Homo sapiens: one gene and its partner. The protein of the gene in region 2 purifies or fractionates together with the protein of the main gene of each other region. This does not show direct contact. Each region holds a gene or a part of one and is shown on either strand. Other genes may lie near its edges. The genes, in order: PPP2R2B and MACIR.

Region 1 (3,829 bases), about 43 Mb from region 2:
ACAGATATGTAAATAATAATATATGAATAAATAAATACCTATAAATAAATAATAAAATGAGAGGGCTGGCTTCTTTTTCCCATGGTGGATTTTGTTCTTATGTCACAGTTGCTTTGCTCTCTGTCCTATACCAACTGGTCAGTGTGACTTGGGTCCTTTGCCACGTGGAGACTCCTTCCAAGCCTGCTAAGGAGGGGATTCATTTTGGATCAGTGGCAAAGAAAGCCAAGAAACAGGTGGAGTGTGAGAGAGAGACAGTTCATATTCACTGAAAGCTTGAATCTCTGAATGTCTTGCCATAACAGAATTTCTATGCTTTCAAACACTATTATTGGTGCCACCTTCATCAAGGAACGAAATCAGCCCCTGGTAGCTTGCACTTAGTTCTCATGGAAATCAGAGAATCATTTGTATTTGTCAAACTAAAAATGAACTATTGGGAGGTATTATGAAGCACTGTTCAAATCAAAGGCCTTAAAATAGTAATAAATCACTTTGAGGGAATGTGATAAATGAGGTTGACTAGAATTCAGTTAATGAACTACCAGGGCCGTTGGCCAGGTCTCCACTAGCAGCTTCAAGGGATAATTTTTGATCTGGAAAGCCTACTTGGCATTAATCTGAACTGTTCAGGCTGGAATTTGCTGGTGGATAAGTGATCTTCATTTAGGCATGTTGACCTAGTGCTGGAGGTGTCTTGTGTGAAAAAGATAGGACTTTCTTATTAACATTAAGGTGTTATCTGTGCCAGTTCAGAAACAGGATTCAAAGGCCTTACTACATCCTTCTCTTCTTTCCAGCCTTGACTTCAAGGGTCACTAGGGGCCCACATTATGCATTTCAGCCAGGTTTTGGGGCCCAATTTTGACCTCCCTTTGGCTGTACTCTACTTAGGATAAATTCCCTGAGCCTCTTCAAGACAATCTTTGGAAGGTTCTTCAGCCACAGAGCCTTTCTTACCTGTCTGACCCATTCCACACACACTCAAATTTATCAAAAATGCAGTCATTTTCATAGAGGGAACACAGCTTGCTGCGGAGGTAGTCATGAACCTGGAGAGGAAACATATCGAGAAGGTCAGTTATTATTTTAAACAGTAATTATTTCTGCAAACACCTCCTCTTCTGATGTGAGCTGTTAAATCTTTCATTGTACATGCTCTTTGAATCAGATGGCCTTGGATCTGAACCTAGGCTTGGCCCTTTTAGCTGTAGGACATTAGGATGGGTTGATGAGCTTCTCATGTAGATGATATGGATTAATCAAGCTTGCTTGTATAGACAGTGGCATCCAGTAAGACTAAATAAGTGGTAGATTCTCATTTTCTAAGCTGATTTGCTCACAGGCATTAGAGATCACCATTCATGCAGTCTTTTATTCAACAAATATTTACTGAATACCTACTACGCACTTGAGATGCAGCAGTGAGCCAAATATCCTTGCAGTGCTTTTGACCCAGTGTCAGGTGACAGATTATATAACCAAGTAAATAAATAAGATGTTTAGATGGTGATAAAATCATAGAACAAAAGTGTATGGAAAAAGAGCCTGGGAGATCTTGTCGGGGGTGTATTATTTTATACAGGGCAAGTAGTCAGGGCTTCACTGGATGAGGTAGCACTGGAGCAGAAGCCTGCAGGAGATGAATGAGCCACAGTGATGTCTGGGTTTGGGGTGAGGGGAAGGCTCTCCAAGCATAGGAAACAGCAAACATAAAGGCCTAGAGGCAGGAATCCTGGAGGGAGTGTGGTGGGAGAGGAGTGAGTAAGCAGCTGGGGGAGAGGATGATCAGTTTACATAGGCCCTTTATTCTGAGGAAGAAGAGACCTCACAGAAAGGATTGCTGAATCTGCTGTGTTGCAATGGATCCTAAGGGTGCAAAGGCAAAGGGAGGGAGACCAGTTATAACCTGAGTGATAGATTCTGGCCTGGACCAGGGCATGAGCAGTGATGGGGACTGGTCAGATTCTCCTTTTGTTTAGGGAAAGAGCAGATAGGACTTGGGTCAACTCTGAGGTGTGGAGAGAAAAACAGGAGTCAAAGATGACTCCCTGATCTTTCTCCTGAGCAAGTGGAAGGAGTAGGTACCATGTTCACTTTTGGGTACAATGGTTTAGAGATGTCTACATGTGGAGCTGTCGAGTAGACTCTGAGGTGAAAGGTGCTGTCCTGGAGTATGTGGCGATTCTTTCCTGGTTTCTCTTTTCCAGTGAAAGCAGCCAGCATGGTTATCAACTAAGAGTGAGCAGGAGAGAGAAAGGGTTGAGAAACAGTGTCAGATTTCTGGAAGGCACCAGGGGACACTTGACGTTGTTGGACATGTATGTCAAATAAGGCTCATCAAGCATAGTTGAATATTTTTCTCCAGCTACATTCAGCAACTCAGCTGTAGATGCCAAATAGATGAATAAGGTTCAGAGAGTAGTAGCCTGGGTTCTCTGTTTTGAAGGTAATCCTTCCTGAACCCACTAGCACGGAGTGGCAATAATAACGGGCATACCCAATATGCTGGCTTGTCATTATTAGCCAGGTGCTTTATCTGTCAAAACCTCATTTCATCTCTAAAGCCATCTTATGATGTAGGTACTTTCATTCTCTTTACTTTAATGGAGCATGAAGCACAGAGATATGACATCATTTGTCCAAGATCACACAGAAAAAGTGACAGAAGGGGAGGGAACTGAGCCCCGGTATCAGGCTCTGGAGTGCACACTCTGAGCTGCACTAGCAACCTGCCTCCAGCTTGCTCTGGTGGGTCCTCAGTCCTTGACAGGAGCTGTGATAATGAACTCAAGTGAGGCTGAGAGAGAAGGAGATAGAACTGTGTGAAAGCAGAGGGAGGCTACCAAGGGCATTGGTGTTTAAGTTAAGAGTGATGATTCGATCTCTTTTTTCCTGCAACTGCGGCTCTTTCTCTTCCTTCGACTCCAACAGTTCTGCTGGATGCAGAGCTTCAGGCTCTTAGTCTTGGGCAAAGGAACGAGGTCAGGCTCATCCTATGTTCCATTAGATGTTCTGGGTATTTGAAAAGCTCTGAGTTATTTGGACAGAGGAAGTTATTTCTAACTCTGCAAATTAATTTTCCCCCACCTTTACTCTCTCACTTCCAAACAGTTCCAGGCCTTGTCAGGGTAACAGCTTCAGTGCTTTGGTGACAAGGGAATACCCCTACAGCAGTGCTCTTGGCATTGTTAGGTGCATTTGGGGGCTGCAAGGGTGAGGCTGTGTCCTGCCCTTACAGAGGCATCTCTGCTATAAACTAACTCATTCACCTTCACTAGGGGGCACAGCAGTAAAGGTATATAAACTGGGCAGTGGCAAGGTTTTTAAGGTCTAGTTCCATATGTCTGCTTTGTGATGAACCTTTCCTCATCTGTCACCATTCACCTTCGGCATTTTGTCTTATTACTCACCTGCAGTGTTTCTATAAGTGTCAAAACATGTGTGCTTTGGAAGTCACGCCCATTAGCAGGAATGACATTGCTGAGAACTCTGTAAATAATTCTTGAAAGATAGAAGTTGGGATAGATTCAAGGGAAAACCTAGTCTGAACCATTATTTCTCCACCATACCTAAGGTCTGGGTAGCTCCTATCTGCCTCCAATTGACAGCATTTAAAGAAAAAGAATGTCTACTATGAAGGTATGCTGTATTTATGTTTTGTTGCACAGAAAAAAAGTCTTCTTAGGCAAACCAGAGGGACCTTTTTCTACTAGAGGAAAGAATAAAGTGAGATGTATACATGAGCAACCTCTAGAGCTTGGAGCAAGAGAGAACTTAAAACTCATCCTATTTGATGTTCTTTCTTCATGTTCCTAGTATGACTTTT
Region 2 (3,829 bases):
CCCAGAGCCACATAGATAGTTAATGCCCATAATTACAACCCAGGCCCCCTGGCTCCAAGTCCATGTTGTGCTTCTAGCATGTGGTTCCCAAACTTGTCTACACCAGAATCATGCAAGGAGCTTCAAAAACTGCTGATGTCTGTTTTCCATCCCAGATTTGTGATTTAACTGATCTGGGGTGTAGCCTGGGTTCTGCAAGTTGTAAAAGATTCCCAGGTGATTCTAATATGCATATAGGTTTGGGAACTTGTCAGATAGAACTTATCAGATAGAAGAGTTTCACTCTTTTAAGTCCCTCCTTTGTTTTTAATCAGTAATTACTGTATAGTCATGTTGGTGAACATAATTTTTGGCTGCTTATAATTGCTAACAACCTACCCCTAGGCCTTCTAATTTACTGTTCCTAATCCTCTGTGGGCTGGAAATATCTGCTAACCAAACGTGTTAAAACTGCATATAAAATAAAAATAAATCTGTGCTGAATGAGAATCGGGCTCCTTCATCTGCACACACTTTGGCGTAGTTATTTTAGCTACTTAGAAGCCTTTGTCAGGTGCAGCTACGTTAGAGAACAGTTTGGCATTTACTTATAAAATTGAATAAATGTTCATTAAACAACACAGCCACCATACTCATAGATATCTAACCCAAGAAAAATGAAAATACACGTCCATACAAACACCTGAATGTGAATATTTATGACAGCTTCATTCACAAACACCGAAACTGGAAACAATCCAAATATCCATCAACAGGGAAAGAGATAAACAAACTGCAGTCCATCCCTACAATGGATACCACTCAGCAATGAAGTGGAACAATCTGGGGAAACATTAAGTGAAAGAAGCAGACATTACACCTATATACTACATGTTTCTACTTACGTGGCATTCTGGAAAAGGCAAAACTATTTGCCAGAATCAATCATTAATTGCCAAGGCCTAGGGTGGGGAGAGGGGATAACTACAAAGGGGAAAAAGGGAATTTTGGGGGGTGATGAAAATGTTCTATTTGTTGACTGTAGTGGTCATTACATAACTGGATACATTTGTCAAAATGCATCAAACCGTACACTTTAAAAGGACGGATTTTACTAAGTTATAATAAACCTGACATTAAAAATAAATGAACTCTTTGTCACATATTTCCACGTTTCAGATGGTCCTCCAAATTTTAAATTTTTTTGTACCGTATAATTTTGGAATCAAAAGGAATCTTAATAGTTTCCCAGTGTATGTTTGAACACCTTCAGTGACAGGCAACTCACTGCCTCCCAAGATGACTCATTTCACCTTGTGCAGCTCTGCTAGAATGTCGATTTATTTACACATATATCTGTATGTACATGCATATATACAGTCAACCCTGTCTCCACGGGTTCTGCATCCATGGATTCAACCAATCACAGAGAGAAAATATTTGAAAAAGCAAAAAATTACATCTACACTGAATATGTATAGACTGTTTTCTTGTCATTATTCCCTAAATAATACAGTACAGCCACTATTTATGTAACATTTACATTGTAATAGGTATTATAAGTAATCTACAGATTATTTAAAGTATACAAGAGGATGTGCATAGGTTATAGGCAAATACTATACCATTTTTGTATCAGAGACTTACGTATCATCAGATTTTGGTACCTGGGGGAAGTCCTGGAACCAATCCCCCAAGGATGCCAAGGGACAACTGTATAAATATAGGTATATACAGAGATAGATGGATAGACATAGATACACATACATTCCTGTAGTTTCTACCCATTGCTCTAGTTTTGTGCTTTATTTCTATTAGCTGAGTCAGTGACCAGGCCACATTGTTTTTTATTCAATATCCTCTCCAAGTACTTTGTACTATGGTTTTCAAACTTCTTACTCTTTTCCTCAAAACTGAAAATTTTAGTAACGTTTCCAATTTTCCAATGTTCGAAAATGCATTTTCATAAATGTAATAGGTTTTATCTACTTAATGAGATTAAAGTATTTGTTTTTCCCTACCATTCCTTTGAATCATTCTGCTGCTGACTAGAAATTTAGAAATCACTTATTATGAAACTCCGCTTTCTCTAAGGATTATGATCTCTTTACATAATTCAAGGCAAGGATGCACAAAGATAATGGCCAAGTAGAATGACACACCAAAGCATGAAGTCACACTAATATAGTCTTAAGGATGCTAAAGAGCTACCATAGCTCATTATGAATTTCTTTTTTCCCTTCAAAGACTTCGAGACACATGGACAACTATGTCAGCAAAGATACACAGATGACACACTGAAAAAAGACAACTAAAGGAAGAAAACAGCATTGCATATTTTTAACCGTTTAAATTCAGGGTGTGATAAAAAGAATGTCACATTTTCAGTGAACTGCTGTACGACTAAGTGAAAATAATGCTCCTTTCAGACACCTGTTGGCTCATTCTTTATGTATGATAATATATAACCAGAATTTTTTGCAAATTATTTCAGCAATGTTTGGAGATTAATGTTTTTACTAAAATTTGCCCCAAATTGGAACAGTTACCTCTAACTACTATACTTTGAAATATTATTTCATAAGATCTTTACGTTGAAGAAATTTAAAGGAAGGAAAACTTAGCCAAACATTTCAAATAAAATAATGTTTGCATATTGCAACAATAAGTTCATTTCTCACCATTAAAAATTTGTAATTATAGTATACATATTTGCAATAATACACCAACATTTCACATTCACTTGATTAACTGACATTTCACATTCACTTGTTTATTTATGTAGTCTTTAAAAAACACATTATGGTATTGTGTTCATACAACTGTTAACGAACGGAAAAAGCAAAATATAACTTACCAGACTAAATCCCAGAAGATGTCACTGTACAATTTCCAATGAGTCCCAAGGGAACACAGACATAATAATTTTTCTGTTCTACTCCAGGTACTAAACATGAAATACAAAAATAAACCTTTAATTTAACAAGTAACACAACTTATAACATGATATCAATTCTAACTGCAAAAGAGAATAAAACTAGCAGGAGGTAGTAACATCAAGTATAGGTTATATAGGACCCAATAATTAATTAATTCAATTGATGTTGAGTTTGTTCACCTAAATGCATCCTCAAACATTTTATCATGTGTATTTCTCTGTACTCTGTTACTTAAATTCTACCTAGAGACTAGGAGTACCTAACTGGGCTAAATAAAGAGACAAGAAAAAGTAAGGTAATAAGTATTGGTTTCACCATCCTAGTCCTATTCATGTGTTCAACCGATTCACAGTACTCTATGGAAAAAAAATAATGCTTAGGCTAGGATCAAAAGCACAGGCCATAGTTCCTAGCTCTGGCCTTGCCAAGAACTCTGCCTCTTGACCCTGCATAAATATCAATCTCTAAAATGTGGACCGTAATAACCCCCCTTCCTCCCTAATACAGTTGTTAGATGGATCAAATGAAATGAGGTAGGTGAATGCTTTACATGCTGCAAAGCTCTTTACAACGTGTGATGCTATTATTATGCAATTAATTTTTGGTATCGACTCATTGTAGCCATAAAGCAGCAACAATGTAAATCTTTCATAAGACTGATGCGAGGCAAATGATTAGAAGTCTCTTGGATAACACAACAAAAAAAGAGAGTGACTGAAAAAGCACTTTTTTATAGTTACCACCTTACTTAAGGTTTCTAGCATCTCCTCTGTGCCTTCCCTCTCTTACCTGGGAAGTTAATGTGTAAGAGAATCTATCTTTATCTCCTACCTCCCTAGTTAATAGGGTTAATTTGCTGAGACGAGGAAAACCCTCCAAAGTCCTTTTCCACCTGTAAAAGTTTCTTTGGT

Evidence for each region.
Region 1: the proteins of MACIR (region 2) and PPP2R2B purify together in Homo sapiens (co-immunoprecipitation; one large-scale study listed by IntAct). This does not show direct contact.

What each region holds. Positions count from the first base shown.
Region 1 is NC_000005.10:146,592,011-146,595,839, forward strand, and holds part of PPP2R2B (serine/threonine-protein phosphatase 2A 55 kDa regulatory subunit B beta isoform), read right to left. Parts: intron 1,053-3,829; coding exon 961-1,052; intron 1-960. UniProt on the Homo sapiens protein: The B regulatory subunit might modulate substrate selectivity and catalytic activity, and might also direct the localization of the catalytic enzyme to a particular subcellular compartment.
Region 2 is NC_000005.10:103,265,005-103,268,833, reverse strand, and holds part of MACIR (macrophage immunometabolism regulator), read right to left. Parts: intron 2,927-3,829; 5' UTR 2,837-2,926; intron 1-2,836. UniProt on the Homo sapiens protein: Regulates the macrophage function, by enhancing the resolution of inflammation and wound repair functions mediated by M2 macrophages. The regulation of macrophage function is, due at least in part, to its ability to inhibit glycolysis.